4 separate regions of the Homo sapiens genome follow, and regions 1, 3 and 4 are each reported to be linked to region 2. The links are microRNA targets in miRTarBase. Many come from high-throughput screens and were not tested one by one. Region 2 holds a microRNA gene; each other region holds the end of a gene's coding sequence.
The links. Region 2 holds the annotated microRNA hsa-miR-513a-3p (UAAAUUUCACCUUUCUGAGAAGG, at 3,501-3,523, opposite strand). A microRNA usually pairs through its seed, bases 2 to 8, with sites in the 3' UTR of a target mRNA and lowers its output. Matches are read on the target gene's strand: a 7mer-m8 pairs with bases 2 to 8, a 7mer-A1 pairs with bases 2 to 7 and ends in A, and an 8mer does both.

Region 1: miRTarBase lists EIF2AK2 as a target of hsa-miR-513a-3p. Seed matches in the 3' UTR shown: 7mer-A1 at 3,226-3,232 and 7mer-m8 at 1,072-1,078.
Region 3: the mRNA of ABHD10 is a reported target of hsa-miR-513a-3p. Seed matches in the 3' UTR shown: 7mer-m8 at 5,463-5,469, 7mer-m8 at 5,412-5,418 and 7mer-m8 at 5,378-5,384.
Region 4: miRTarBase lists RNF6 as a target of hsa-miR-513a-3p. Seed matches in the 3' UTR shown: 8mer at 5,691-5,698, 7mer-A1 at 5,680-5,686, 7mer-A1 at 5,356-5,362, 7mer-A1 at 5,093-5,099 and 7mer-A1 at 4,980-4,986.

Annotation. Positions count from the first base shown.
Region 1 is chr2:37,101,926-37,109,766 of GRCh38, forward strand. EIF2AK2 (eukaryotic translation initiation factor 2 alpha kinase 2) reads right to left here. Exons shown (of 17, transcript NM_001135651.3): 15 at 7,269-7,370; 16 at 5,549-5,602; 17 at 1-5,470. The coding sequence ends at 5,348. Among named protein-coding and RNA genes, the nearest start is that of GPATCH11, 21 kb to the left of the region's middle.
Region 2 is chrX:147,222,360-147,230,200 of GRCh38, forward strand. MIR513A2 (microRNA 513a-2) reads right to left here and starts at 3,593; the gene lies at 3,467-3,593. The region is part of intron 2 of LOC105373347 (periphilin-1); the gene reads left to right.
Region 3 is chr3:111,989,710-111,997,550 of GRCh38, reverse strand. ABHD10 (abhydrolase domain containing 10, depalmitoylase) reads right to left here. Exons shown (of 5, transcript NM_018394.4): 5 at 4,183-6,174. The coding sequence ends at 5,830. Among named protein-coding and RNA genes, the nearest start is that of TAGLN3, 5.3 kb to the left of the region's middle.
Region 4 is chr13:26,207,971-26,215,811 of GRCh38, forward strand. RNF6 (ring finger protein 6) reads right to left here. Exons shown (of 5, transcript NM_005977.4): 5 at 4,805-7,622. The coding sequence ends at 5,854. Among named protein-coding and RNA genes, the nearest start is that of RNF6, 10 kb to the right of the region's middle.

The sequences.
Region 1 (7,841 bases), not on the chromosome of region 2:
TGCAATGATGTAACACCTGAGATTTACTTTAAAATATTCCAGTAGGGCCGGATATTGTAATCCCAGCAGTTTGGAAGACCAAGGCAGGAGAATCTCTCAAGGCCAGGAGTTTGAGACCAGCCTGGGAAACACAGCAAGACCATATTTCTACAAAAAATTTAAAAATTAGTTGGGTGTGTTGGTGTATGCATGTAGTCCCAGCTATTCAAGCGGCTGAGGCAGGAGGATCACTTGAGCCTAGGAGTTCGAGGTTACAAGGAGCTGTGATCGTACCACTGTACTCTGGCCTGGGTGACAGAGTGAGATCCTGTCTCTTAAAAAAAAAATTACAATTAAATACTTCACCAAAAGAAACAAACAAAAAGTAAGGGGTTAGATGTATTAAGAACGGTAAAGTATTGATATTTGTTGCAGCTGGGTGATGGGTAGAGTTTCATTATTCTATTTTTGTGTATGTTTGAACATAAAGAAATGTATGAATAATATTGAAATTATTCAATATTCCATAATGAAAAGTTAACATGCCAAGAATCTCAAATTATGGTGAACACTCAGTGGGGACTGCATATTGTGAGTTATGTCTCTAGTTAGTTAACAGATAGTAGAGACCTGGAAAAGCTTGTATGTAGCCTTTTAAACATTTCTTCTCAGATACATACATGCATATATATGTATTATATAAAATACATATTCATACACATATGTGCACACACACAGGATGGCTTCATGGACATGCAACCTGTGCAGTTGCACAAGACTGTGCTTAGAAGCACCCCACACCTAATTTTTGAACGAGGGCCGTACAGTTTCATTTTGCCCTTAGTCCCACAAATTATGTAGCTGGCCATACACACACATGCACACATACCACATACCCACATGTATATATGCATATATTGTGTACATATGTATATACATTGAATATATTTAACATAAGTGTTAAGTATGCATGTGAATTTTATGTATGTATTTATGTTAAACATGTACGTATTTAAATAACATGTGGTTTAGTGATAAAAATTCCCTAAAAGGTATGTTTCTAGGGAGGCAATTATATTAAAATGGCTCTCAAAATTTCTGTGTGTGTGTGTGTGTGTGTGCATTTTAATTAGCAAATAAGGTCCCAGGCTCTTGCCCCTGTCCTCCTCTGAGTAAGAGGATACTTTTTACTTTAATTTTGAGGCCAAGAAAATATATACTCACAAATCAAAAGAAGTTGCTAAGAAATGCTATATTCATTTAATAAGAGTAGGAATATATATATCTTTTTTTTTCTTTTTTTTTTTTGAGACTGAGTTTTGCTCTTGTCACCCAGGCTGGAGTGCAATGGCGTGATCTCAGCTCACTGCAACCTCCACCTCCTGGGTTCAAGCGATTCTCCTGCCACGGACTCCCGAGTAGCTGGGATTACAGGCGCCTACCACCACACCCAGCTAATTTTTGTATTTTTAGTAGAGATGGGGTTTCACCATGTTGGCCAGGCTGGTCTCGAACCCCTGACCTCAGGTGATCCACCCGTCTCGGCCTCCCAGAGTGCTGGGATTATAGGCGTGAGCCACCATGCCCAGCCAGAGTAGGAATATTAAAATGAGGTCAGTAAAGATAAGGCTACATTCTCACTAACTGGCCACATCATTTAGTGTTTCTTTTGAATATAGCCTCATTAATCAAAACCAGATATTGTTTTTTTAAAAAAAGATTTCTCTCTACGCAGAACATTTCCAAATCTACAGAAAAGTTCAAAGAATAATACAACAAACACCTGTGTACTGTCATCTAGATTTACCAATTGTACAATGGCTAATATTTTGCCACATGTGTGCCCTCTTTCTCTCTCCATGTTGATTTTTGCTGAACATTGAAAGTTGCAGACATCATGACACACTTGGCCTCTAAATGTTTGTGCATGCATTGCCTAAAAAAACATTTTTGGCTGGGTGCAGTGACTCATGCCTGTAATCTCAACACTTTGGGAGGCCAAGGCAAGTGAATCACCTGAGGTCAGGAGTTCAAAACCAGCTGGGTCAACATGGTGAAATTCCGTCTCTACTAAAAATAGAAAAAATTAACCTGGAGTGGTGGCAGATACCTGTAATCCCAGCTACTCAGGAAGCAGAGGCAGGAGAATCACTTGAACCTGGGAGGCAGAGGTTGCAGTGAGCCGAGATCGTGCCACTGCACTCCAGCCTGGGCGACACAGTGAGACTCTGTCTCAAAACAAACAAACAAACAAAAACAAAATAAAACAAAACAAAAAGACATTTTCTACATATACTATTATCACACCTGAGAAAACAGTTATTTGGCATTGTTATCTAATATGCAGTCTATATTCAAATGTTCTCAATTGTCCCGAAGATATCTTTATAGCTGTTTGCTGGGTTGTTGCTTTCTTTTATTATTATTATTATTTAGATATGATCTCACTCTGTCACCCAGGCTGGAATGCAGTAACATGATCATGGCTCACTGCGGCCTTGACCTCCTAGGCTCAAGTGATCCTCCCACCTCACCCCCCCAAGTAGCTGGGACCACAGATGCACACTACCATGCCCAGCTAATTTTCTGATTTTTTGTAGAGATGAGAACTCACTGTGTTGCCCAGGCTAGTCTCAAAATCCTATGCTCAAGCCATCCTCCCCTTTTGACCTCCCAAAAATGCTGGGATAACAGGCATTAGCTACTGCGTCCAGCTTTTGTCTTTTTAAATATCCAGAATACAATAAAGATTCAAACATTGCATTTGGTCATTGTATCTTACAAGTCTCTCCCCTTTTTTTTTTTTTCATGACACTGACTTTTTGAGAAGCCCAAGTCAATCATCTTATAGAATGACTACATTCAGGATTTGTCTAATAATTTCCTCATGATTAAATTCCAGTTTAACACTTTGTGCAAGAAAACTAAATAGGTAAAATTCTTAAGTCACATCAGGAGGGGCATAATGTTAGGGTGTTCCACCTTGGGTGATGCTAAATTGAATCACTTGGTTATTGTGGTGACCATTGTAAAGGTACATTTTCCCCTGTATAATTGATACCTCTTCTGTAGGATTATATTTAAATCCTTGTAGAAGATCCTATTCCACAATAGCTTTTCATCCAATAGTTTTAGCATCTATTGATGAACGTTACGTGAAAAATCTATGAACTGCTCTTTATGAACACTTTTTAAAGCCTTTATAAAACTATTTTCTCTTACTGTATTTTCACTTTTTGCTTAACCTAAATTTGGCCCTTTTTAAAAATCCTAAAATCATATGGCAGTTTTAGAATGGTAGCTGGTTGCTGCTATAGTTTGCATGTTTGTCCCCCAAAATCTCATGTTGAAATTTGATCCCAGTGTTGGAGGTGGGGCCTGATGGGAGGTGTTTGGGTCATGGGGGAAGACCCCTCATGAATACATTAATGCCGTCCCTGGGGGTGGGGTGTGCTGGGGAGGAGAAGCAAGGAGTTCTCAATCTATTAGTTCCCTCAAGAGCCGGTTATTTAAAAAGAGCCTGGCACCTTCTCCCTCGCTCTCTTGCTTCCTCTCTTGCCATATGATCTCTGCACATCCGGCTCCCCTTCACCTTCCACCATGAGTGGAAGCAGCCGGGGAAGAAGCAGATGCTGGTGCCATGTTTCTTGTACAGCCTGCAGAACTGTAAGTCATATAAATCTCTTTTCCTTATAAATTATCCAGCTTCAAGTATCCATTTAAACCAATAAGAAACAAACTAAAACAATTGCCCTAAGTTGAAATTCACCCTCAGGGTCGTCTTCTAAGATGCAATTTAAATTATCTTCTCTACAGCAATTCAGGACAACAAACTAGCATACCCCATGTTCCTCAAATATATCTTCTCCAGAGCTCATGCCAGACCCCTTGTCCAGACTTCCTGGGTGGTCTCCTCTCTACTCATCTAACACCCTGGCATATAGTTGGAAGGCCCACTGGGCTGTCACTTCTAGCCCTGTGCTCAGCAGAAAGCCATCTTACCCTTCCCGATGGACTATTTTCTGTTTTTAGCTACTGCCTTACAGCACGGTTGTCTTTAAAGTGGTTGTTACAATAGATACAAAATGTATTTAAGATAAAAGGTATAACTATGCAGCAAACACTAGTGGACCTACCATCCAGCTTAAGGAAGTTACCATTACCTTTGAAAGTCCATTTCCCCAATCACATCATTCCCCTCCCTCAAAGATAACCACCATCCAGAATTTAATATTTCTCATTCCCTTCCTTCCCATTATTGTCTCATCACATTTGTTGGGTTTTTTATACAAAATGATTTAGTTTTGCATGCTCTGGAACTTTATATAAATGGAATTATTCTGCATATATTTTCTGAAAACCTGCTTTGTTCGCTTAACATTATGTTTCTGAGAGTTGTATTGTGTTACGTTATTACATTTAGCTGTACTTCAATTGTTTTCAATACTATATAGTACTCCTGTGTGTGAATATAATTTTTTTAATCCATTCTTCTTTTGATGTGCATTATGGTTGTTCCCTGTTCTTTTGGCTATTATAAACAGGGTTTTATGGACATTCTTGTAAGCACGTATGTAGGAATAGAATTGATAGCTATGTGGGTATACATGGATTCAACTTTACTAGATAATGCCAAATTGTTTTCCGAAGTGGTTGTACATCACTTTTTTTTTTTTTTTTAATGAGTACCATATTTCTCCAGCTGGCTTGTAAGCTATGTGAGGCAGAGAACGATCTTACATTTTTTTGGCCTAAAAGCGGTAGAAATTTAATAAATAGATATGAATTGATTGATTCATTAATAGTATAAAAAGAAAATTTGGGGGTGGTTTTTCCATCTTTAGAACAAAGAGATGAGGCTGGGCGCGGTGGCTCATCCCTGTAATCCCAGCACTTTGGGAGGCCGAGGCAGGTGGATTACTTGAGGTCAGGAGTTTGAGACCAGCCTGGCCAACATGGTGAAACCCTGTCTTTATTAAAAACACAAAAATTAGTTGGGTGGGTGGCACATGCCTGTAATCCAGCTACTCAGGAGGCTGAGGCAGGAGAATCACTTGAACCCAAGAGGCAGAAGTTGCAGTGAGCCAAGACTGTGTCATTGCACTCCAGCCTGGGCAACAGAGCGAGACTCTGTCTTTAAAAAAAAAAAAAGAATAAAGAGATGAGCCAGGAAAAAGTAAAATGTAAGAATGTTTTTGAAGCAAAAAGAAGAAAACCTTTCTGTTTCTGCAGAAAGATTAGTAAAAATAGTAAAAAATTAAAGGAAACATTAAAATAAAAGGTAAATATCTATTGATATTCCCTAGCAGATTTTAGATAATTTAAGGAAAACTGCATATCAGAAGCAGGATACTTTTTCAGAAGGGCTCTAACATGTGTGTCGTTCATTTTTCTCTGGGCTTTTCTTCCACACAGTCAAGGTCCTTAGTATTTCAGATGTGTTAGGTCGATCCTCAGGTTTCTTTGAGAGTAATTTCTGTAGAAGAGTTTTCTGCAATGACAGTGAGAGTCAATAGTAAGAAATAAAACATTGAAATAAATAAAATTCTGATGATTTTCAAGTGCTTACTTCTTTTTTATCAAATATATCTGAGATGATGCCATCCCGTAGGTCTGTGAAAAACTGGAAAAAAAAATGATAGGTGTATATTAGGAAATTATTTACTTGGGAGGAAAGACAGAACTAAAGGCTGAGGAATACCTGAAATGTAGGATATTTCCAGATTTTTTGGGAAAGTCTCTTTAGCCAAGAAGCAAGCAGGATTCCCTCTCTCCTACACTACCCCCAATCTAATAACCATCCTTGCATTACGACATGAAGTGTTAAGTGCATCATCTTTACAATCTCCCTTCATGCATTTTGGAACCCTAAGTGATAGGTACTTCTAACTGTTTTACAGAGGATAAGGTTATTGACTCCAGGAAAGTTCCCTTTCCTGAGCTTAAGAGTAGGATATCCAGCTGGGTGCAGTGGCTCACACCTGTAATCCCAACACTCTGGGAGGCCGAGGCGGGTGGATTGCCAGAGGTCAGGAGTTCGAGACCAGCCTGACCAACATGGTGAAACCCCATCTCTACTAAATACAAAAAAATTAACCAGGCATGGTGGTGCACGCCTGTAGTCCCAGTTACTTGGGAGGCTGAGGCAGGAGAATTGCTTGAACCTGGGAGGCAGAAGTTACAGTGAGCCAAGATCGCGCCATTGCACTCCAGCCTGGGCAATAAAAGTGAAACTCTATCTCAAAAAAAAAAAAAAAAAGAGTAGGATATCCACTTGCCTACTGCCTTTAGTGACTCCCCACTGTCTAAGCAAGAAGGTCCACATTTTTTCCTCAAGTTAGCCCAACCTATCTTTCTAGCCTCACCAACCACTACTTCCTTGTAACTTATATACTCCAATACAACTTACACTGCCTGCTGTCCCCAAATACACTCTGTACATTCCCGCCTCCATGCTAGAATCAACTTTTCTGTTTTGGACTATTAGAAGCCAACAGATCCTTCAGAGCCCAGCTTAGATGTCTCCATGAAACCTAAGTCCCTACAGCTGGAAAGATCTCCCTCCCAGCTGCTTCCACAGACTTCATGCCTTCTCCTAAAATGCTTATGGCATTCTCTTATATTATCTTCCCTTTTAGAAAATAAGCTCCTTGAGAACAAGGCTTTATTCATTTATTTATTTAGAGATGGAATGTCACTCTGTCACCCAGGCTGGAGTGCAGTGGTGTGATCTTGGCTCACTGCAACCTCCGCCTCCCAGGTTCAAGCGATTCTCCTGCCTCAGCCCCCTGAGTAGTTGGGATTACAGGTGTGCACCACCACACCCAGCTAATTTTTGTATTTTTAGTAGAGATGAGATTTCACCACGTTGGCCAGGCTGGTCTCGAACACCTGACTTCAAGTGATCTGCCTGCCTTGGCCTCTCAAAGCTGGGATTACAGGGGTGAGCCACCGCGCCCAGCCAAGGCTTGTTTATTTTTGCAACCCTTACAGCACTTAGCACAGTGTCTTACACAAAGCAGTCAATCAATAAAATGTTACTGACTGACAAGTCTTACAAGTCTTATGAGATGTACTACCTTCCAGGGAAGATCAAAGTTTTTGGTCTTTAAGAAAGTGTTTGGTCTCTGCCAAACCTTGAAAGACAGAAAATTCATATTTCATTTGCAGTCAGATACTAATATGCTCAAGCCCATCCTCACGTGAGGGCAAGAACTGTCTGCAGCAGCACTCTGAAGGTGGTAGTCAGTAATTTTTCTTGTTTAATTCTTTCTTTGAGATAATTTTACCTTTGATGTTTCAAAAGCAGTGTCACATACATGAAGAAGTTCAGCAAGAATTAGCCCCAAAGCGTAGAGGTCCACTTCCTTTCCATAGTCTTGCGAAGAAATCTAAAGAGACCAAAATAGATTTACCTTTGTTATGCTCCTTACATAAATATCCAGCCTTCTAAAGCCCAAAAAAGTTATTTGACCAAAACATCTTACACCACAAAACAATGTCTATTTATTAGCAAAATCTGTGGAGTCTGACTGCCTAGGTTCAAATCTGTACCGCCGAATAGCTGAATCCTCTGTGTAAATTAACGATCAACATGGGAATAATCTCAGTTATAAAACAAGGATAACAACAGTATCAACCACAGAGTTTGATTGTGAGAGTGAGATGCAGCAGGTAAAGCAGTTAAAATAGCACCCAGTAGGCGGCTTGCATTGCAACTGTTCATAGCGTATTTATTCACAATATTCCATAACTGGAAACAACTCAAAGGACCACAACAGAAGAATGGATAAACATGTTGTGGCATATTCATACAATGGACTACGACTCAGCAATAAAAAGGAATTCTCTGCTGGTATGAG
Region 2 (7,841 bases):
TTCACGATATTGATTCTTCCTACCCATGAGCATGGAATGTTCTTCCATTTGTTTGTATCCTCTTTTATTTCCTTGAGCAGTGGTTTGTAGTTCTCCTTGAAGAGGTCCTTCACATCCCTTGTAAGTTGGATTCCTAGGTATTTTATTCTCTTTGAAGCAATTGTGAATGGGAGTTCACTCATGATTTGGCTCTCTCTCTGTTTGTCTGTTGTTGGTGTATAAGAATGACAAACTATCTCTCGGACCACAGTGCAATCAAACTAGAACTCAGGATTAAGAATCTCACTCAAAGCCGCTCAACTACATGGAAACTGAACAACCTGCTCCTGGATGACTACTGGGTACATAACGAAATGAAGGCAGAAATAAAGATGTTCTTTGAAACCAACGAGAACAAAGACACAACATACCAGAATCTCTGGGACACATTCAAAGCAGTGTGTAGAGGGAAATTTATAGCACTAAATGCCCACAAGAGAAAGCAGGAAAGATCCAAAATTGACACCCTAACAACACAATTAAAAGAACTAGAAAAGCAAGAGCAAACACATTCAAAAGCTAGCAGAAGGCAAGAAATAACTAAAATCAGAGCAGAACTGAAGGAAATAGAGACACAAAAAACCCTTCAAAAAATCAATGAATCCAGGAGCTGGTTTTTTGAAAGGATCAGCAAAATTGATAGACCACTAGCAAGACTAATAAAGAAAAAAAGAGACAAGAATCAAATAGACACAATAAAAAAATGATAAAGGGGATATCACCACCCATCCCACAGAAATACAAACTACCATCAGAGAACACTACAAACGCCTCTACGCAAATAAACTAAACTAGAAAATCTAGAAGAAATGGACACATTCCTCGACACATACACTCTCCCGAGACTAAACCAGGAAGAAGTTGAATCTCTGAATAGACCACCAGGAAGAAGTTGAATCTCTGAATAGACCAATAACTAACAGGAGCTGAAATTGTGGCAATAATCAATAGTTTACCAACCAAAAAGAGTCCAGGACCAGATGGATTCACAACCGAATTCTACCAGAGGTACAAGGAGGAACTGGTACCATTCCTTCTGAAACTATTCCAATCAATAGAAAAAGAGGGAATCCTCCCTAACTCATTGTATGAGGCCAGCATCATTCTGATACCAAAGCCGGGCAGAGACACAACCAAAAAAGAGAATTTTAGACCAATATCCTTGATGATCATTGATGCAAAAATCCTCAATAAAATACTGGCAAAACGAATCCAGCAGAACATCAAAAAGCTTATCCACCATGATCGAGTGGGCTTCATCCCTGGGATGCAAGGCTGGTTCAATATACGCAAATCAATAAATGTAATCCAGCATATAAACGGAGCCAAAGACAAAAACCACATGATTATCTCAATAGATGCAGAAAAAGCCTTTGACAAAATTCAACAACCCTTCATGCTAAAAACTCTCAATAAATTAGGTATTGATGGGACGTATTTCAAAATAATAAGAGCTATCTATGACAAACCCACAGCCAATATCATACTGAATGGGCAAAAAGTGGAAGCATTCCCTTTGAAAACTGGCACAAGACAGGGATGCCCTCTCTCACCACTCCTATTCAAGATAGTGTTGGAAGTTCTGGCCAGGGCAACCAGGCAGGAGAAGGAAATAAAGGGTATTCAATTAGGAAAAGAGGAAGTCAAATTGTCCCTGTTTGCAGACGACATGACTGTATATCTAGAAAACCCCATTGTCTCAGCCCAAAATCTCCTTAAGCTGATAAGCAACTTCGGCAAAGTCTCAGGATACAAAATCAATGTACAAAAATCACAAGCATTCTTATACAAAAAAGTATTTCACTGAAAGAAAAACCATAAATACCAGTGAATATAGTACTCTTTTTGAGAAATCCTAAAAGAGATAGTACTCTTTTTGAGAAATCCTAAAAGAGATATAACTAAATTCTCTGTCTTTGTTTCATTTTACGATATCACTTATTTAAGTACACATGAATTCTCTCTAATACAGTTTTAGAAATTATATGCTAAAAAGAGTTATCACTTTGGAAATTTCTACACACATACAGTATTTCCAACGGACAGAATTTTTTTTTATTATTCAGAATGTCCCCCCGCCTCCAATGAAAAAAGTTCTATATATTCTATTAGTACAATTGTTTTAATATTGAAAAAGATACTTCAACTGATTTTTTTTACTTCCAGACATTAATGGTCTTATACATATTCATCCATTCTGAACCTAAAAAAACAAACATAAACTAAAATCCTGCCTGTAACCATATAGTAATTGTTTTTTTATAGTTTCTCTCTTTCGGTGTATATGCTGTAACCTCTATTTCCGTTGGAATCAAAATTGTATTAATCAATCACTTACTATTTATAACATTTTTAAACACATTTCCCCAATATAAGTAGCTTATTTATATATAACCTACTTCTAAAAAATGCATACTAGTTTCATGCTGCAGATGGCCTCACACCATCTGGCACTTGTCTTACTCTTGTGCACGTGCGTATTTGCCTCTTTCTCTCTCCATTAGGTTGAGTTAAGAAGTGTCAACACAAGAAAATGGGGCCGGGCATGGTGGTTCACGCCTGTAATCCCAGCAATTTGGGAGGGTGAGGTGGGTGGATCACGAGGTCAGCAGTTCGACACCAGTCTGACCAACGTGGTGAAACCTGGTCTCTACTAAAAATACAAAAATTAGCCAGGTGTGTTGGCGCACGCCTGTAATCCCAGCTACTTGGGAGGCTGAGGCAGAAGAATCGCTTGAACCCGGGAGACAGAGGTTGCAGTGAGCTGAGATGGCGCCACTGCACTCCAGCCTGTGTGAAAGAGTAAGAAAGACTCCATCTCAAAAAAAAAAAAGACAGAAAATGGGGAGAGAAGACTAGGAGATATCTCTTGAGTAACAACTCTATCATACGCTTCCATTGTTCAAACATAAAAAACAGGGAAAAAAGATAATGGAAAAGGGTGAAATATTCTTGGGTGGACTACGCTTAACCCTCCATAAATTGGTGACTGAAGGCTTTGAAAGGTATTTTAAAAGTCTATGAGAAAATGTTTTAGTCTTTGACAGAAAATGGACACTGTGGATCAGCAATGAAGGGACCTGAGAGGCAGGAGAGTCTTTTGGGAGCGCTAAAGGAGAATCCTTGCAAATGATGACTTCTTGATAAGTGAGAAAAGTTTAGGAATCTGGAATATAGCCTTCCAGCTGACGAAGAATGGCTGTGGCCTCTATCCAATGTATTTCTTATTTGAGCCAAGCCTCATTTGGCAAAAATAGATAAATTCTTAAGGAACCGAAGTGCATGCGTTTTCTCAGGAGTCCACAGTTCCTATGTATAGTCATTTAGAAGGCACAAAAAGTTCCCTGAAGTAGCCCAGCACTGAAGAGTGGGTGCACAGGATGCAAAACAGGCATCACCATGCTCGCAGCTACACCCCCATCCTCAGGGACACCACATATGCAGTGCATGCTGTACATTACCCTTCTCAGAAAGGTGAAATTTATATTTTAGTTCACATAAATGACACCTCCCTGTGAAAGGCACTGCACACTGAATGGCTGAATGTGGCATCCAAGAACAAATGCTCCCTATTCATGCCGTTTTTTTTCAAGTCCCTATAGGTGTATGCCTTGGCATGGCCACCAAGATTTATGCCAAGGGACAATGCAACTTGTAGCCCCCGGCGCTCCCCTTTTCATCCTGCCCCAAGTGAGATTTTAACATGCAGATTTTTGTTTTGTTTTTGTTTTTGTTTTCAGATGAAGTCTGGCTCTGTCGCCCAGACTGGCATGCATTGGTGTGATCTCGGCTCACTGCAACCTCCCCCTTCTGTGTCTAAGCACTTCTCCTGCCTCAGCCTCCCAAGTAGCTGGGATTAAAGGCACATACCACCGCGAATGGCTAATTAACACACAAATTTTAGGCTTAGCCAGAATATAACATTTCACTTCATCTCTTCCCCAGAGATGTGTAATCCTTGTCTGGATTATCCCATTAGTTTTCGCGTTAATTTGCTTGTCTCATTAAAAATCCTCAATATCAGGCCAGGTGCAGTGGGTCACACATATAATCTCATCACTCTGGTAGGCTGAGGCTGGTGGATCATCAGAGGTCAGGATTTTGAGACCAGCCTGGACAACGTGGTGAAATTCCATCTCTACTACAAATACAAAAAATTAGCCGGGTGTGGTGGTGGGCAACTGTAACCGCAGCTGCTGAGGCAGGAGAATCACTTGAACCCGGGAGGTGGAGGTTGCAGTGAGCCGAGATCATGCCACTGAATCACTTGAACCCGGGAGGTGGAGGTTGCAGTGAGCCGAGATCATGCCACTGCACCCCAGCCTGGGCAACAGAGTTAGTTAGACTCTTTCTCAAAAAAAAAAAACAAAAAAAAACTATATATATATATATGTGTGTGTGTGTGTGTGTGTGTGTGTGTGTGTGTGTGTGTGTGTGATGTACACAAATAATCATGAGCTGAGGCAAATTAAAAGACCTGGATTCTTCTAGCTCTGGCCCTTGATAGCATGTAGAAGTCAGACCACATGATCGTCAAGACCGAGTGTTTCTATGTACCATTCTCATTCATCTACTAAACATAACCCCTGAAAGACAGACAGAGAAGCACATAGCTCAGTGTTAGTGCTGAGTCACGGTCAAGGAGCCATAGTTCACTGAACAGAATGATTCTAAATATCTCAAGCATTTTACTGCATTTTTTGAATTCCATGAAAAGCAACCAAAGTTAGATTCTACAGAAATATTTATATATATCAATCAATCAATCAATCAATTTAGCTTTTCTCTTAAGTATTTGGGCCCTTGAGCTATCTCCCCAAAAAGTTCTCAAGGGGAAAAAAATACACAGACACAATACTCCCTCCTTCAAACACCAGTACAGGTACTACTTCTCTTCCTCTGCATCACCCACCCCTCAGTAGCTTCAAAGGAGTCTTTCCAGCAACCTGGCACATCATAGCAGGAGATTCTAAGACCCACTGCTCCATGAAACCACATACACAGACACATATACGCCCAAGTAAACAATATTAAAAAGAATGAGAATACAACAAAATATGAATACAAAAAAACTAACCATAAACAGAATTGATAAGCCATCGAAAGAACCCTAGCAATACACAATGCAAAGTTCCAACAACATATGTGCAAATTAATATGCAAATTAAAATATAACCGAAATCACACAGTGAAATCCAAATAACAACAAAAAGAAAATACAAAATTGCAAGCAATGTACGTAAAGAAATACCAATCAAAACACCAATGACCAAGAGCATGGCAAATCTGAAAACAAATTCAAACAAACACATATAATCCCAAAGGAGCCAAAGTCAAACAAACAAAGCAAAACCATACACATGAAATAAACTGATAAGAATAGCAAAAGCAAAACAAAAACAAAACAGAGATCCAACCTCAAACAAAAACAACATAACAAAATCCTCATGCTACATGCCCCGTGCACACACAAATGTATGGGCACATACACCAAAGTGCACACAGATACATGTATTACTCCCCCCATCACCATATAAACACAAACAAATGTGCTAGAACACATGCTAAAAACTCACAATCACCAACAAATATATCAGGGTATCTGAGCCTCAAAGCCCAAGGAAATCCTATGAGTGCAAGAAGGATGGAAATAGATACGATGAAGGGTAGCCACATGTAGTTGAATGGTAATACTATTAGGAAAGAAAGTAGAGTAGTTTTCTTCTATTTCATTGTAACCTACATTTCCCATCAAGTTCTTGAGTTGGGGAGGGGCATGTGGTTGTTTGGAGATGGGAAACAAACTCAAATTACACAACCCATATTTGCCAACACTTGACTATAATTTGATAGGGTTTACCTGAAAGGAGGCATCAAGCTCTCTCACATTTTTCAGCACAGAAGTGTAAAAGACTCACTGCTCCAGTCGTGTCTGTCTGTCTCTTTCAGTCTGGCTCTGCTTGATTGTCTTTCTCTTTCTCTTTCTCTTTCTCTCGTAACAGCCATAGTTTAAGAAGAGATATCTTGAAAACACGGAAAGAGAAAAGTCAATACAATATTTCCTAATTTTTTAAGAGGTCAGAGAAGGGAGTTACTGTGTGGCCTGGAGCAGGTGATTCTGACTACCAAGGGAAAATTGGAGTACTACTCCACAATGGAGGTAAGGAAGAATATTTCTGAAATACATAAGATGTCTCTTAGTATTACTATGCCTTGTGATTAAGGTCAGTAGAAAACTACAACAACCCAATCCTGGCAGGACTACTAATGGCCCAGACCCTTCAGAAATGAAAGTTTGGGTCACTCTACCAGGTAAAATATAATGGCTGAGGTGCTTGCTGAAGGCAAAGGGAATACAAAATGGGTAGTGAAGAAAAGTAGTTGTAAATACCAGCTAACACCAGATGACAGTTACAGAAATGAGAATTGTAGTTCCCATGAGTATTTTCTACTTATATTTTTATTAATATACTTCTGTGTTTTCTTGTCTCTCTTATCCCCTTATCATGTAACGTAAGGTGTACTGATATTATATCATAGTTATTAACCGTTGTTAACTTTAAATAATCATAGTATTGATGTTATGGAACACCAAGGAGAAGAGTAAACAAACAACACTCCAGGACTTTATCTCCTCTTCTGGTGAAGTGGTTCATGAATTCTGGGTTGTATAAATGGTAGTTGTATCTTATTAAATGAAATTATGACCTTGGTATTTTTCTCATTTGATGATTAAATATAATTTAAGGAGATGCGTATAAGTGACAACATGACAAGGAGTGAACTTGTGATGATTAATTCTATATTTCAACCTGACTGGGTCATGGAGTGCCCAGACATTTGGTCAGTCATTATTCTGGGTGTTTCTGTGAAGGTCTTTTTGGATGACATTAGCATTTAAATCAGTAGAATGAGTAAAGCAGACCACCCTCCCTAATGTGGATGGATGGGCCTGCACCAATCAGATGAAGGTTTAAATGGAACAAAAAGGCTGACTCTCCCCTAAGTTAGAGAGAATTCCTCCTGCCTGACTGCCTCCAAACTGGGGCATCTCATTTTTTTCTGGCATTGTACTCAAATTAAAACATTAGCTCTTCCTGGGTCTCAAACCTGCTGGCCTTTGGACTGGAACTACAAAATGGTTTGTTCTACTGCTTCTTTGGCCTCTGGACTTGGACTGCAACTATACCATCAGTTCTCCTGGGTCCCCAGCTTGCTGACCCATCCCCCTGCAGATCTAGGAACTCACCAGCCTCCATAGTTGCCTGAGGTTATTCCTTGCAGTATCCTTATAATAAATATCTTAAGGGATTTATTTTAAAAATAGACTTCTATAATAATTATATACATATATATTTGCTCAATCATTGTCCTGGGTGTTTCTTTGAAGGTCTTATAAGACCTGATCCAGAATCTGAGGGTGCCTGGGGTACCTGTGAAAAGTATGTCCTGTAGGTTTTTTAAGCATTTATTCCTTTTTCTCCACAAAAGGACTACAAAACACTGGGAACAAGATTTGAGGTAGGAACATGATCCTTTTTCTGCATCCTTTTCCTTTTTCTGTGAATGTCATATGTATGTGTGTGTGTGTGTGTGTGTGTGTGTATATATATATATATATATATATATATATATATATATAAAGGGATATATAAACCCCTTTGTATATGTAAAGTTTCCAGAAGTATATGTACACACATGTTCATACATATATGTTCTCATCACTTCATCCGTTCCCATAATAGTTAAGACCAGCTAAAAACATATAAATAGTTCAAATGAAAGCAAATTTGGGGTATCAT
Region 3 (7,841 bases), not on the chromosome of region 2:
TGTGGGTGGTTTGCCTGAAAAAGACTTAGCGGTCAGTCGTTGAAGGCCTGGCAGACAGTCCTCTGAAAACAGAAAACTAGGAGATTCAGGAGAGCAGTAGGTTTAGGAAGAGACAAGGGAAGGGCTGACTAAGGCAGGTCTTGATGCTGCATGGAATCATCAGTTGAAGAAGCTCAAAAGACAGCAGCACTGTGTTGGGACACTTGGAGCTTAGGGGAAGAGCTTAGAGCAGGGAAATTGACAGAAGAATTATGGAAGTCATCATTGGTATCTTGGGGAGGAGCCATAAGGCTAGTTCCAACCTTAGACTAAGGGAACGGAGTCCCAAACAGAAACCACATAATTTTTTCCATGGCTGGAATGGCTCTAAGGAAGTTGTTGGTTTGATATGCAAAGCTTGAAACAATTCTAAAGATGTACATTTGCTTGACTTTTTTTAAACACTGTGTTTTGCAAATCTTTTGTACCCAAAGAGTCCCTCATATTATAACAGAGTAGCTGGTGTGCTTTAAGTGAATGACTGGGCCCATGCTTCTAGAGAGGATACAATGGCAAAGAGAGGGGCCACAGCAGGGCATGGAAGTGTCCAGAAATCCAGAGGAAGTCTTCAGAGAAAAAATGCTTCATCTCCTCAGGGGTGACAGTGGAAATCAGCTCAATGCCACATTTACTAAGTGCCTACTAGTATTATAGTTAATGTTTTCAACAACTTTTTCTTTCTTTTTTTTTGATTCGGAGTCTCACTCTGTGGCCAGGCTGGGGCGCAATGGTGTGATCTCAGCTCACTGCAACCTCTGACTCCCTAGTTCAAGTGATTCTCCTGCCTCAGCCTCCTAAGTAGCGAGGATTACAGGCATGAGCCACCACAACTAGCTTATTTTTGTATTTTTAGTAGAGACGGGGTTTTCACCATGTTAGCCAGGATGGTCTCAATCTCCTGACCTCGTGATCCGCCCGCCTCAGCCTCCCAAAGAGCTGGGATTACAGGCGTGAGCCACCGCGCCTGGCCTCAACAACTTTTTAAGGGCCTATGTGTATAGCTGAGACACAAAAATAAATGATACATGACAATTTGGTTTAGTAACGAAGTTAAACTTGTAAACAATAAATGCCAGATGTCATGCTAAAATTATGCACAAAGAACTCAGGTTGGTACAATAATACCTGGAGGAGGGTGTTAAGGAATCAGGGGACAGATTTATAAATGAGATTATTTTAAGTCTTGAAAGACAAGTAGGTGTTTGCCAGGTGGATAGAGTGAGGCAAGAGGGGTAGGGAATGTTGCTGTCAAAAGAAGTGTATTTAAGGTGAAAATCTTCCAGTATTAATAAAACATAGGGTTAAAGAGAAGAGAAACATAGAAAGAAAAATGAGGCTGGAATGTCAGGCAGGCTCCAGATTATAAAATGGTGTGTTTGCAAGTGCCCATGGTTAAATTTTCAGGAATTTCAAGAGACAGATGCTAAACTCAGTCATTCTTAGCAATAAGGTTATATTAACTTACTCTTAAATAAGTTATATTACAAAGAAAAGTTACTAAAAATGAAGCACTTCCTGATTTTTTTGCTACATTTTACTGTTAGCTATGTTGAGGATATTTGCGTTTATTGTCTCTATATGGTGTAAATACTATGTGATGGTGTGCTACTGGGTATTTTCTTCCAGCTTTGCATTCAGAGATGTCATGATGTAGTTTAAAACCAGCCAGGGCAGGAATATTTATGCTGTGAATGTTAGCAAATGCTACAAATCAGGGCTTCCACCCCACCACCAAAAGCCAGTTGTTAAACTGGCTTTCAGCAACTGGTTTTTGTTTGTTAAACCAGCCTTTCATGGACTCACATATCATGCAAGAGTTTGAGCTTTTTCATAGAGAGAGAGGATCATCAATCTGATTTGGGTAAAGGAAAAGGAGACAGAATGACTCACAAGTTTGACTTGTATAACAGAAGCAATGGTGGCGCCATTTATTTTAAGAGGACTCATAGGTGGGGAGAGACATAAAGCAGAAAAGATAATAAGGTTTGGATTTACTGCATTTGGGAAGCCCATGGTCCATCCCAGTTCATTAGGCAGTTGGTTTTATGGGTCTGGAGCTCAAGAGTCTAGATTGTAGGTATGTAGTTGAGTCACCTGCAAGCAGGTAGTAGTTTAAACCATGAACATGGGTGATGTTCCTCAAGGTGAATAAGTAGCAAGAGAAGACTGCCAAGGCCAGAACTCAAGGAGTATTAACATTATAAGGTGGGCAAGGAGGAGGAGCCAGTAAAGGGGTTGATATAGCATAGTCAGAGGTGTCTGAGGACAAACAATGTCAAAATAAAGCTTCTGACCTTGGTCATCCTTTGAGAGAAGGAAGCTAGGATATAAACTGAGAATTTCAAAGCAGCAAGTGGTACCAAAAAGGCATGGATAGAGTACTGTTCACAAGAGAGCCCAGAGGACCCAGCAACAAACTTCCTGAAAAAGAGAGATGGGGATGAGTAAGGAAAGGATTCTGAGAGACTGACTTTTGAGCTTCTTCTTTAGTAGAAGTTTACCTGCAAAACCCTGAAAGCCTAGGAAAAGGGGAAGACAAAATGGGAATGTATATTTTCCCCAAAAGATACATTTGGTTAAAAAAAATTGCCTGCAATTTTCTAGGTATATTCTCTAAATACACCAAAGCATCACATTTTTTTCATCCAACCATTACACATCTCCACGATTGTTTCTAAACTAAGAAGTACTTGAGATCTATATTTAGAGGATCTTAAAAAGGTATATTGAAATTCCACCCACCTCAACCCCAGAATATAAAAATTCTTTAGATTTAACTGTTCCAAATTTAATGAGTATTTGACATATTCGCTTTGGGGACTATCCTGGGAATAGTTATGTGGCAAGTAATTCTTTCAGCTTTCTATCTCCATATTTTATAAAACTCAGTGTTGCCCAGAGCTTTTTTCTTCTCATTCTCCAGAGACGTTTCTATATTGGCTGTTTGGAGAATGGTGTACTTTTTAGATTTGTATCTGGAAATGCCTCTAATCTCAACAGATGTAGCAAAAGCAAAATAGATTACGTGGCTTCACTTAGCCTTCTTTTCAAATGGTATTTGCCTTATCCCTTTCTGTTGTGCATACTGAGATTTAGAGGGGTCGTGTCACTTATTTTAAATAATGACTAAGTTCCAGGGGCTAAGGCACTGAAGGGCTCCCAGTTATTCCTCCATTTTACACGTCACTAAATACATGGGATGGAACGGTTTCAGAAAGGAGCTTTGGGGAAAACTAGAAAAAACAAATAATTAACAGCGCACTAAAATACACTAAATCTCATGGATGCAAACTCATTTGGAATTTGCGATGTTAACCTCTGCAAAGCTAGATTAAATTTTAAAAGATTTTCCTAACTTTAGGTAATAAAGGTTCCTTCTCCTTTTTTGTTTTAAACCATTAGCATTTGAAAGAATACCATACAACATTCCTATTTGGGATCTTGAGGTCAGGAAGGTCAAATCCAGTCCAGTTCAGTTCAGCTTTAGAAGACCTACCCACTTCCTTGCCTCCACCTTCCTTCCTATGCCTTCATTGATTGTGTCCATCAGTCTCTGAAGGGACTGTGTTCTGTACATAATGAAAAGCAAAAAGATACTGCCTCCTGTGTCATTGTTCTAAATGTATTGTGCTTATTTAGACCTTACACCGCATTATCTAGGTTTATGTTATTTTACAGAAGAGACTGAGACTCAGTGAGGTTAACTGCTCAGTCACAGAGCTAGTAAATGGTGAGCCAAAATTAAAAACCAAGCTTGTCTCTGACCTTAACCATTATGCTATACTGTCTCTACATATGTATTATAAATCTCAAATCATATTTATTATTTTGCGCAGAAAACCATCATTGGCAAGGGCCCTTGCCTTCATGTTCCTAACAAGCCTCACACCTAGCAATGTCTAGGCAAAGTAAGTCCTTGAATAGCCAGTGCCATCTTCTATCAACCCACTCCAGCACCAGAGACTGTGGCACTCATAGATGATTTATCTTTGCTGTTTGTAATTTTTGTCCAGTATAAAAGATAACCCATGGATTGTAGTTTAATTGCCCCGTAGGACATAAACCAGTTTTGTATCTGTGGAGAGGCCCTCACCACCACCCCCAAATTTGAAGATTTGCTAGGAAGACTCATAAGACTCCACATACAGTTCTGCTCACGGCCATGATTTATTACAGTGAAAGGATACAAAACAAAATCAGCAAAGGAAAAAAGACACATGGGGTGAAGTCAGGGGAAACTAAGTGCAAGCTTCCAAGAATCCTCCGCCAGTGGAATCACAGAGGATGAGCTTAATTCTCCCAGCAACCAGTTGTAACAGCACTTGTGAAACACTGTCAACCAGAAAAGCTTGTTAGAGACTGAGTGCCTGGGGTTTTTACTGGGAGCTGGTCACAAAGGTAGTCTCTGCCTGGCACATACCAAAATTCCAGACTCCCAGAAGGAAAGCAGGTGTTCAGGAGAAACTATATTGTTTTACAGTTTAGATATAGTAAGCTACTTTGATCAGTTCTGGGAATGGTGGAAGCCCCCTGAACTCCAAGTTCCCAGATGCCAATCAAGGGCCAACCTTGTAAAGCAGGTCTCTAAGGTTAAGTAGTCAGGTCGGCTTCATTAACACTTTTTTCTGCACAGCAATTTTATCTCAACATTTTTTCTTCAATGCCCATAAATACTCAGTTTCTTGAATTGTACTTTGAACCAGGTTTACTATCTGCTGGTTTCCTCATTAATGAGTCGAATAAGTCTTCGACACATGCTCATCTTATACACATGTATATATATGAGTCATGTTGTCAACTTAAAAGGTTTGACAGATAATAACCTAATCAAGCTAAATAAAGTCCAGCCAAAATTAATTAATAAAAAACATTAACTAAATAATATCAAGGCTCAATCTACACCTCACTTTAGTTATTTAGGAAAGAAAAAAAATAACCTTTATACTAGCATTTCACACTTTCTTACTGACTTTAGAACGTCTTCTGATTTAGGTGGCAATCACTTGCCTAGTTGTACTTAGGGCAATATTAATAAAATAATGAATGTTTCTGCAAGAAATAATATATAAAGATTAATTTCCTCTTTAATTTTACCAATCAGAATATTAAAAATACTACATCATTGTTTTAGATGAAATTCCCCATTTAAATATATTATACATAAGCCAAATTTTAGAAATAGCTCCTTGTATCACTGTACAATTTTGGGCCTTTAAAAAAAAAGCTCAATTTTAAGTTTGAATATAATGTGCAGTTTATATAACATATATATTATATTATATATACTTTATACATTATATAAAGTATTATCCTTATTGTGAACTTTATTATGCTTCTGAAATTTCTCCATCATTTCAAATTTACTTCAATAAAAATTTCCCTATATTTTGTGAATTGCATTTTCAAATCAGAAGTAATGTTACAAATTTCTGTCTATAATAAAAAACAAAATATTCACGCTTTATTAATAATCCTAATTAGAAAAGGATGCAATTAAGAGCTGGCATAGCTAACATAAGCATAAGAAAGGTAAACTTTTCTTGAATTAAAAAAAGGAAATACTTTAATGAAAAAAAATCAAGGACAGAAGGAAGGAGAAAATTTTCTAAACAGCAGCTGGTCCTTCTTCACAATTTGCATTACTTATGCAAATACATCATTAAATAATACTCATCTTATATTTACAAAATAGAGGAAAGGGAAAAACCTAAAGTATCAGGATCTTTCATTTCTTATCCCTCTTCCAATCTTCTGGATACATTAGTTTACATACCAACTAAACATGTGATACTAGTTAACTATAGTTGAGAGCTTATCAATTAAGTCATCAATAGTGTAAACAAGAAGTTGAATGTCTGCTTTTTCCCTCATTCGGTGATCACTGTGTTTTCGGAGGATGACATCCACATCTGTGCTGAGTACTCGATCGGCAACCTGCATTGATGTATGCCAAGGTACAATGTCATCCTTCATGCCATGGAGCAATCTTATGGGGCAGTTCACAGGAATTGGGCTATGTAACAAGCAGTGATGTTCAGCTTCTTTAATGAAACTGTACTGAACGTTATAAACTCCTTCTTCAGAGTATTTTGATGGCATGCTCCACACACCTTTCATCTCTACTTCCTTTTTTAGCTATTGGAAAAAGAAAGAAAAATAAAAGTATTTGTGACTTTAGGCAACATTAACACATGCAATAGTTTTAAGTAATCTAATGAAAGCAGTTCTTGAATAAGAGGATAGAGATAACAAAAGTATAACAATAATAATTATCAATAATTACTACATGCAAGGTACTGTGATGGGTATTTTATACATATTATTCCATAAGATTCTGATAATAATTCTGTTATTATTCTATTTTTATAAAAGAGGATATTATGGTTTAGATAAATGAAATACTGTGTGCAACAGTTCAGGGCTAGGCTACTAACTGTTATGGCTAAGACTCAAACTTAAATTTAAATTTATTTAATTTTATCATACACTATCTCAAATCAGATGTTGCTTCACCCCAACTGAAAAGAAAAATGAAGAGGGAGAAAAGCACTACAATTTCTTGGAATCAGTCCAGGTATCATTCATATTTAAATAAAATCAAATCTTAGAATAAACATTGTTTAGATTTCAAAATTGTAAACCTAAAAGTGCTTATAAGTAGCTAAAATGGATATGGCATAGGGAAAGAAGAGAAAGAATCAAACACAGAACTAAGAATAAAAAAATAAGAGTAATTACATTGTAACAATCATACACATACTCATGCAATTTTAGGCTGAATGTAAAGAAATATAGTTTTTCCTTCCAGAGTCCTATAAAAGAGAAAAAATTTGATTTTTGTTCTGGATGACAAAGAAGTCTTCCACATACTTCCTGAAAGCCAAACAATAATATCTGTATATTTATTCCCTTAAAATGAAATATACATGTCCTTTGACTTTTTGAGAACTCTTATTTTTTATATAATTTATCTTAATTTTTCTAAAAAAATTAGAATTTTGTATAATGAGTAACATGCAGTCATTATAGAAAACATAAAAATAATTAAAGAAATAAATCACCCATAATCCTATCTTATGGAGAGAAAAACCATTAATATATGGCTTATTTCCTTCCAATATTTGTCTATATGTGTTTTGGTTTTTGTGTAATATGTAAAATACATACATATTACACATTCATATACAGTTTTCTATGCTGTTTATTTAGTACATATATTTCTGGGTTTAAAAAATTCTATGAAAAGGTTTTAAATGCTGCACAGCAGTCCACCATAATTGACTTAATTAGTTTGACCATCTCATACTGTGGTATTGTCATGAACACTTTTGAGCATAAAAGTTTATTTATATATAATAGATTATTGGAAAGATGATCACAGCTTAAAACTAAAACAAAAATCAAGCTATGAATAGTTTCAAGACTGTTACAATCATATAATATTAAGGGCATTTCTAGAAAAATGGAATGGACATCTTATCAAAAATTTTAAAAAATAAGGAAAGAAAAGCTACACATATTTGAAAAATTTAAAGTTTCAACAAATATACTATGATTTTCCCATGTTTAAAATTGTTAATTTATTGCAAATGTAAAAAGGAAAACAAGAACTTAAAAAATATGTATGACATAATATAATCTATATGTACTTAGGCTTTAATGTATTTTTAATTCCAAAAAGACTTAATAATTCAGTAAAAAAAAAACTGTACTTCTAAATATGTCTCCAAATGATTTAAAATTAATGAAATTCTACAAAACTATAAAATGTATATAAATCTATATCAATATCATGGCATTCT
Region 4 (7,841 bases), not on the chromosome of region 2:
ACTTCCAGTCCAAATATGCTGAATTTGAGGTTCCAAAGGGACAACCTAGTAGACATTAACTAAGGCAATCACAAATGTGGTCCTAGAATTTAGGAGAATGTGCTGGAATGGAGAAGAAGATTTAGGTGTGTGCAGAAAAGAATTTACATGGTAGGCCTCAGGCTGGCCCTAGAAAGGCTTGTTTGCAAGGTTGGCTCTTAGCTGGCAGCCTGGAACTGGACTGGGGGAATACTCTATTCCCTGAGAAGGGTGGACCACTGTGCCTAAACTGTTTGTGCAAACAATATAGTTTACGCTGAACACTTGCTTTCCTCCTGGGAGTCTGAAATTTTGGTATGTGCTAGGCAGAGGGTGCCTGTATGACCAGCCCCCAGTAAAATTTTGGGCACTGAGTCTGTCACGAGCTTTTCTGGTAGACAACACTTCTCTCATGTAGCCACAGTTTGATGCTGGAGGAATTAAGTGTGTCTTGTGTAACTGCTGGAACAGGACTCTTGGAAGCTTACCTGGATTTCTCTAGACTTTGTCCCATGCACCTTTCTCCTCTGCTGACTGTGCTAATATCTTTTCCCTGTAATAAATCTTAGCTGTGAACATAACTCTATGCAGATTCCTATGAGATCTTTTAGTGAATCACTAAATTTGGATGTGGTCTTGGAGACCCCCAACACAGAGATTTATCAGGAACACCTAGTCATTCAGTGCTGGGAATAAAACCTAAGTGGACCCCTCCCAAGTTACATGGTTGCAATGGACTGGTCACATAATCTGATCCCAATTGGTTGGAGTAAAGAAGGTCATGCTGCTCGATCCTACAGACAAAAATGAAGATGCCTTCTATCGTACAATGCACTGGTCTGAAATGCAATGAAAGGACAAGGGTGACATTCAAGGGAAGATTAAAGAAAGACTCCTAACTATTCCAGAGGCAAACTCTATGTGGCTAAGAGTTAGAGTCATAGAAAGATCCTCTTGACAAAATGCTAAAAAAGAACAAACCAACAAAAGACCTAAAGGTTGTGAGGACCATGGCTATTCCTTTAGCAAATTGAGAACAAGACAAGATTTCTGGCATTGGATACAAGATCCTAAATACAATTGTTAAGAAACTAGTTACAGTTTTAAGGAAAGTGTATTGTCAAAAAGTCCCTAGCCTGCTGTATAGAGACCTGTGACTGTCCGGCATTATGGTAGACCCTGAACCAAGCCCCAACATTGAAATGCCAAGATCAAAGCCATTCACCAGCATCTCCTCAAACACCTGCCTGCCATCACCACCACAAGCACCAGTAGGAAATCCTCCCTTGGTGCCTTTTCTGAAGGTGGTTCCAACAATTTATTCTACATCCAGAGAAGTGAGGCAACAAAGAGAATGCTCATGAGACCCATTGTTTCTATCATTCATCCTGCTAAGCTTGCTCAGCGAGATATGCTATTATATAATCTGTACCAGTAATCAATGTATGGCACTTCTTTCCCTGTTTTTGTTTGATTTTTATTCCATTTCACTGTATCGGGTAGGCAGGAGAAGCTACTTTTATCATTTATCCCATAATCTGCAGAATGGTGAGAAGTCACAAACCTGATCAGATCCAAGCTAATGGAGGAATTGACACTACCTAGAAAACCTGAACTCAGAGGGGCTAAATTGTGTCACTTCACAGTACAGAAGCTGCATGTGATTTTGGATTGTTACCCACTGGGGAGAAGGTGAGCACATTTGGAATTGCACAGCACATTTGGAATTGCACAGAAGGTGGCTGGATTAGGATTAAGTAGGAGCATTTTTACAATTAAATGTGTGAGAAGATGTGAGATATATATATATATACTGGGCAGCCAAGAAGTTACTCCATCTTCAAATGAGACATTAACACAATAGAGGAAAAATATGTCTGAAAGTCATTATTTTCCAGAAGAAATGTGAAGTTATTTTTAAAAAGGAATAAAAAATATATAGGGGCCAACTCAGAGTCTTCAGAGATTTAATACTCAAACAAAACTTGCTGAAATGATGGATCTCCAATGATCAAAAGGGCAAATATATTCAGGGACTAACACACTCATACTCACTGAAAATAACTCGCAATCTGTCTCTAGAGACTAAAGAAAAAATCACCACTGACAGCCATCATCATCTTTTGAAACGTGGGATGATGTTCTCAACGATAGATGAATCTGGCTTCCTGGGAAATCATCTCCTAATACAGATACGCCAGCTCTCTGATTTCCAGTGTTGCACAGGACTGAATGAGAGACCCCAAGTGAGCCACCTACTACTGCAAAGTGAATTAACACCCTGGCTTTCATGTAAAGTGCTGTTTCTAGTTTCTCCTCCCCTGGCCACAGATTATTCCAATGGAGAGATGCAGGAAGATTAAAAGTTCATTAGATGTTCTTGTCTGGGAGTAATATACATGAAAATGCCTCAGACTGAGCTTGTCAACTCTGGCCCTTAATGCAGCATCTTCAGATGCCTCATTCATCTCTTTCCTGGATTCATCTTTATAATACAGATTCTGTTATATCTTTTAGGGGCAACTCTTCTCCTCCATTCATGAGACAGAAGGATGTATTTGCCTATGGAAATTAGGGTAATCAGACATATGATAGAACAAAGTTGTAAAATTAGAAAAATATCTTTAGGAGGAATTAAATTAGACTGAAAACTTCCCAAGGCATTTCCACTTCTCCAGAATGCAGCATAGCAGGAAAAGCAGGAGCTTTGGAGGCAAATAGCCACGTGATTGACTCCCTAAACTCTGCCAATTACTAAGTTAGGTAGCAAAAATACTTCAAGGAGAGCTTCAGAGGTTTAAATTATGAATTCATGTTAAATATTGAAAGGAAAATAACCTCGTAAGAGTGATAATTAAGTAAGGGTCATAATGCTGGCTGAAACTAAAAAAATCTAGGAAAAGAGAAAACAGGGTAAAAGGCTGTAACTATGTGAGAGGGCAGCTGGAAGCTGGCAATCTAGAAATAGAAGTTTGCCAGACAGCCACACTATAAAGAACAAGCTCTACGGACCTGACATGGAACATAATATTCAAATGAAGAATTTCTAACTATTTGTTCTTCTCTATATTGGAACCACAAAGGGTATAATCATTGCTAAATAGAAGCTATAAATAGATTAATGGGCCTTTGTATTTGTCATCAGCCTTGTTTATTGGGAAATGAATGAAAATATTAAAGAATATCCTTTTTTATTCCCAACTGGGTTATCAATTTATGAAATTCATTAAGCTGTACTGCTGCCTTCAGGGAATTTTCCATACAAAACACAATCTACTTCTGTTTCAAATGCCTATATGGGATTTCTTTCCATGCTAGTAACATTATCATGTCTTGCAAAGGACTAAGTCAAAGAATCAATATGCCTTTATTTTTTCTGTATCCTTACTTTTTTCATTCCCCTCTTCCTTTGTCCTCCTAATTTTCCTATTGCATCAGGCCCAGGGAGGTAGAACTTCCTGAGGAATATCCCATATAAGAAATAAACGGGCCAGGCATGGTGGCTCATGCCTATAATCCCAGCACTTTGGGAGGCCAAGGTGGGCGGATCATGAGGTGAGGAGTTCCAGACTAGCCTGGCCAACATGGTGAAACCCTGTCTCTACTAAAAATACAGAAAATTCGCCGGGCGTGGTGGCGCATGTCTGTAATCCCTGCTACTCCGGAGGCTGAGGCAGGAGAATTGCTTGAACCTGTGAGGCGGAGGTTGCAGCGAGCCGAGATAGTGCCACTGCACTCAAGCCTGGGCAACAGAGTGAGACTCTGTCTCAATAAAAATAAAAATAAAAATAAAAATGCTGGATTTAGTCTCTCCTCATACTGGGGGCAAATTTTAACACTAAAATAAGTGAGATGTATGAATTAAGCTATGTTCAAGATGTTTAAATTGGCATACCTTGTAACTAATTTGTGCTACCTCTCCCTCCTCCACCTAGGTGATTCTCTCTTCCACCTCTTCATACTGAACTAGAGACCAAACAACGTCTTTTTTTAAAAACCAACATTTTTACACCCTTCTCTTTCCTTTCAGTTTCATTGCCACCATTCTAGGGTAGATAAGTGATGACAACTGGTAATAAAAATAATGATGTCTTTTATCACAATAGTTCTCTTATTGGTTTCTTTGCTTCCCATCTCTCTCCATTCCATTGTGTTCTATATGCTGTAGTAGACCCATCCTCCTGGGCCATGAAAAATGATCCTACCCTATGCCACTAAAATCAAGAGACATCTAACATCTCTATAAGGTAAGATAAAAAGTCCTTAGTTTGCTATGAAAAGCCTTCAAATCTGATTGAAATCAACCTTCCCAGTCTTAGATCCTCAAACTGACCTACATAAATAATTTACTCCAAACAAAGTCACAACTTTTATGAAAACCTTTTACTCCATGTAAATGCACTCCTTAACATTCCTGGGCATGCATCTAACCTAATGAATTGAACATAGTCACCAGTCAGAAAGGAAAATTAAATGTGGAGATATTTCTAAATCTCACAGAATCTGGCCTAAGTACTGTTCTTGTGATTTTGCCCAAACAGTATCACCACAAGAAAATCCTGTCATATATTAATAAGCAAATATGAAAGTAAGAATAATAATTCACTTTATCAATTGATATTCAGTTTCTAAGAGCAAATATGTCTTTTCCATGAAGCCAGGGACTTTTGTCTGTCGTCTGGGAAATACTCTATCCCATAACACTGCCTGGCATCTAGTATGAAATATTAGTGGAGGGTGAATAAACCACAGTGGAACAACAGAAAAACATAGTTCACATACAGTCTTTGTTTTAATGTTTATTGGTAGAAACAGATCTTCAATGCATACTTTGTGTTTATATAAACTCTACATTCTCTTAAAGGTTTTCGTTTTGTTTTCACTGGAGATTTTTAGCCTCCAAGTGAACTTAACATATTGCCTATGCATCTGATTCTTTATAGACTTTTAGATTTTAAAACTAAATTTGAGAAACCATGCATACTGTATACCTTATTTAATAATCCAAAGAATTGTTTGCACTTTCAAAAAAGTTACAAAAAGGCTGAACACAAGTTAAATAACCTATATGATGTAAATTTTCCATTTCTGAATACTTTTTCAGTATTATATATTGCTTGCTGTCTAATAAGTTAGATTGTCAGAGACGCTTCAGTAAATTATCTCTACTTTAAAATTATATCTGAATCCCCTTTCTCTGAGATGAACTTGCCAATATTAAACATTGTGCCATATGCAGTATTAGCCCAAAAGCTTAAATAAGAACCAAACTTGTAGACTGAATATTTTAACCTTAAAATTATATACCTATATATACACCTATGGTATGCTGCATATTAAATTTAACATTTCAAGTAACATATATATAGCAAACATTCAGCCAAATACTCTTTCATGAAAAGATACTGTCCTTAAAATAAAAAGTTAATGAAAAGCTTATTTAGACACAAATGTCTAGATATAAGTACTAAGCCTATGAAACTTGAAGCTAAAGTCTGCTGTACTATTAAGAAAAAGAAGATTGATTCTTAACCTACTGAATTGTGCAGATACAAAAGTGCTTAGCATGACAAAATTACCAAAATAAAAACATTTTAGAGGTTATTTGGTTCTAGCAATATTAACTATTCTGTATTTCTGGATAATTTAACATTTGTATTTTAAATTTTATATAAATTTCTTTTTAACAAGTTTAAAAAAGCACACGAAAAATAGTTCAAACTATATATAATCTGTTATTTTTCATCCTGGTTAGCTAATCACAAATAACTCAGCAAAACAATGCTTGAACATTCAGTTCTACTAAAAAACAGTATTTGAGTAGATCCCATCACCTTACCCATTGTTTGCTATGTTAGACCCTAAAACAGGCTGCCGACAGATCGGACAAGTGCAATTCTCTGAGAGCCATCGGTCAATACAATGAATGTGAAATTCATGCATGCAAGGTAATTGCCTGAGCTTGTTTCCAGTTACATAGTCACTAATACAAACACTACAGATTTTACCTAGTTCACTATCAATACTGTTATGCTCATAGTGCCTGGTGGAAAGATTGTCAATCTGCTCTTTGGTTAAACCACGTATTCGATCATCATCATCACTTTCATTTAGTAAAAAAAAGTGAGCAAGGCGAAGAATGGGTAGTGTTCCAGTTTCAACTAAATTGTTTGGATTTCGCAACTGCCTGCCACCCCTACTGTCACTGTTTCGAGTATGAGGCTGGGTGGTCTCGTTTTCACCATGCATTTCAGTGCTGTCTCCTTGGGCCTGCCTGTCTTGAGAGGAACCTTCCCTGTGCTGGCTCCTGTTGTTATCTGTACCTAAGTTACTCAGTTCTGAGTGCATGTCTGGTAAATGCTGGCCATTTCTTTGAAGTTCTGACTCAGAATCGGCCTCCATTAGAGAACTCAGTTCTCCAAACCCAGTCATGATCTGCCTTAAAATTGACCGAAGAGCCACTGATGATGGCTCAACAAGCTCATTCTCAGAAATCCTACGAAGAGGAACTGTTATGGTACTAACATAGGTTCGAATACCTGACCGCTCTAAACGAGAAATGGTTCGGCGAAAGCCCCCACTATTGCTTTCAATAGTGACTGTATTTTCTGCTAGCCCTACTCTGGATCGAGTTCTATTTGCAATACTATCCCGATCTCTATTTTCTCCAGGACGGATCCTTCTCACTTGAAGGTCCAGTGTGATTGTTGGATGTCGTCGTACAGCAGTTGAGGATCTGCTGGATTCTTCTCCTTCTTCTACTGTTATTCTTGACACAAGCCTTGAATTAGAGAATGGGGTATATGCAGTACCTCTGCGTTCTCGTTCTCTATCTTGCTCTAAAAAGACTCGAGTTCTACCTCTCCTCCTAACAGATCTTCTAGTGGTTTGCTGTACTGGTCTACTTTCCCTTTGGGAATTATGATAAACAGTGCCACTCTGTCTCTGAATTGGTGAACGGCTTCGACTATTGGAAGTAGATCGTAATCTTATTGGCTCTAATCTTTGGTTTGTATTCCTCACTGTAACATTACTTCTAGCCCCATTTTCCCAAACATGTGCTGCTCCAAACCGTTGCCCCTCCCTTTGCCTGAGTTCACTACCACCTGATTGGTTTGTGTGACTACTGAAATTAGTGCGTGAAGCGTTAGCTCGAGGAATGCCAGCTGCTCCCCCAATTCCATTTCTTAACCTTCCCAATGTTGAGAAAGATCCTTCAGCTGGATTTTGCCCCCTTGAAGCAAGCCTAGTCCTTGGAATGTTGGAACTACTACCATTGAAATTCACTGAGGTTTGGCTTCTTGTTCGCCTAGCCACAGGACTAGTTGACCTTTGTTGCCTATTTGCAGTATGATCTCTGTTACTATCTGAAAGTGGAATGTCTGTATAATCTTCTCCATGAATTTCAAATCCTCTATTTTCATGATTTACGTGGATTTCCAAACTAAACCGAAACTCTCCATTGTTCGGGTTTGTTCGACTCACAGCTCTCCAAGTTTGGTTCCCATTTTGTCCACTTCGAGTTGCATTTCCTGTGCGCCGAAAGGTGTTCAACCATTCTAGAAGAGAATCTTCATGTGAACTTTCTCTAGGGACTTCTGAGTCTAGAAAGCAAAGCAAATCAACTTAAGATCAATTCCTAAGACACACCTTACAGCTTTATTGAAAACTTGTAAGAAAAACAAAGTTTGTAATAAATTAAAGAACATCTGTGGATTTTAATGAATGAAAGATGGCAAAAAGACAACTTTCTAAAAGAAAAGTATATCTACTATAAGCATATTATAAAAATTAAATTACTATTTACATAGTTACAAAGCTTT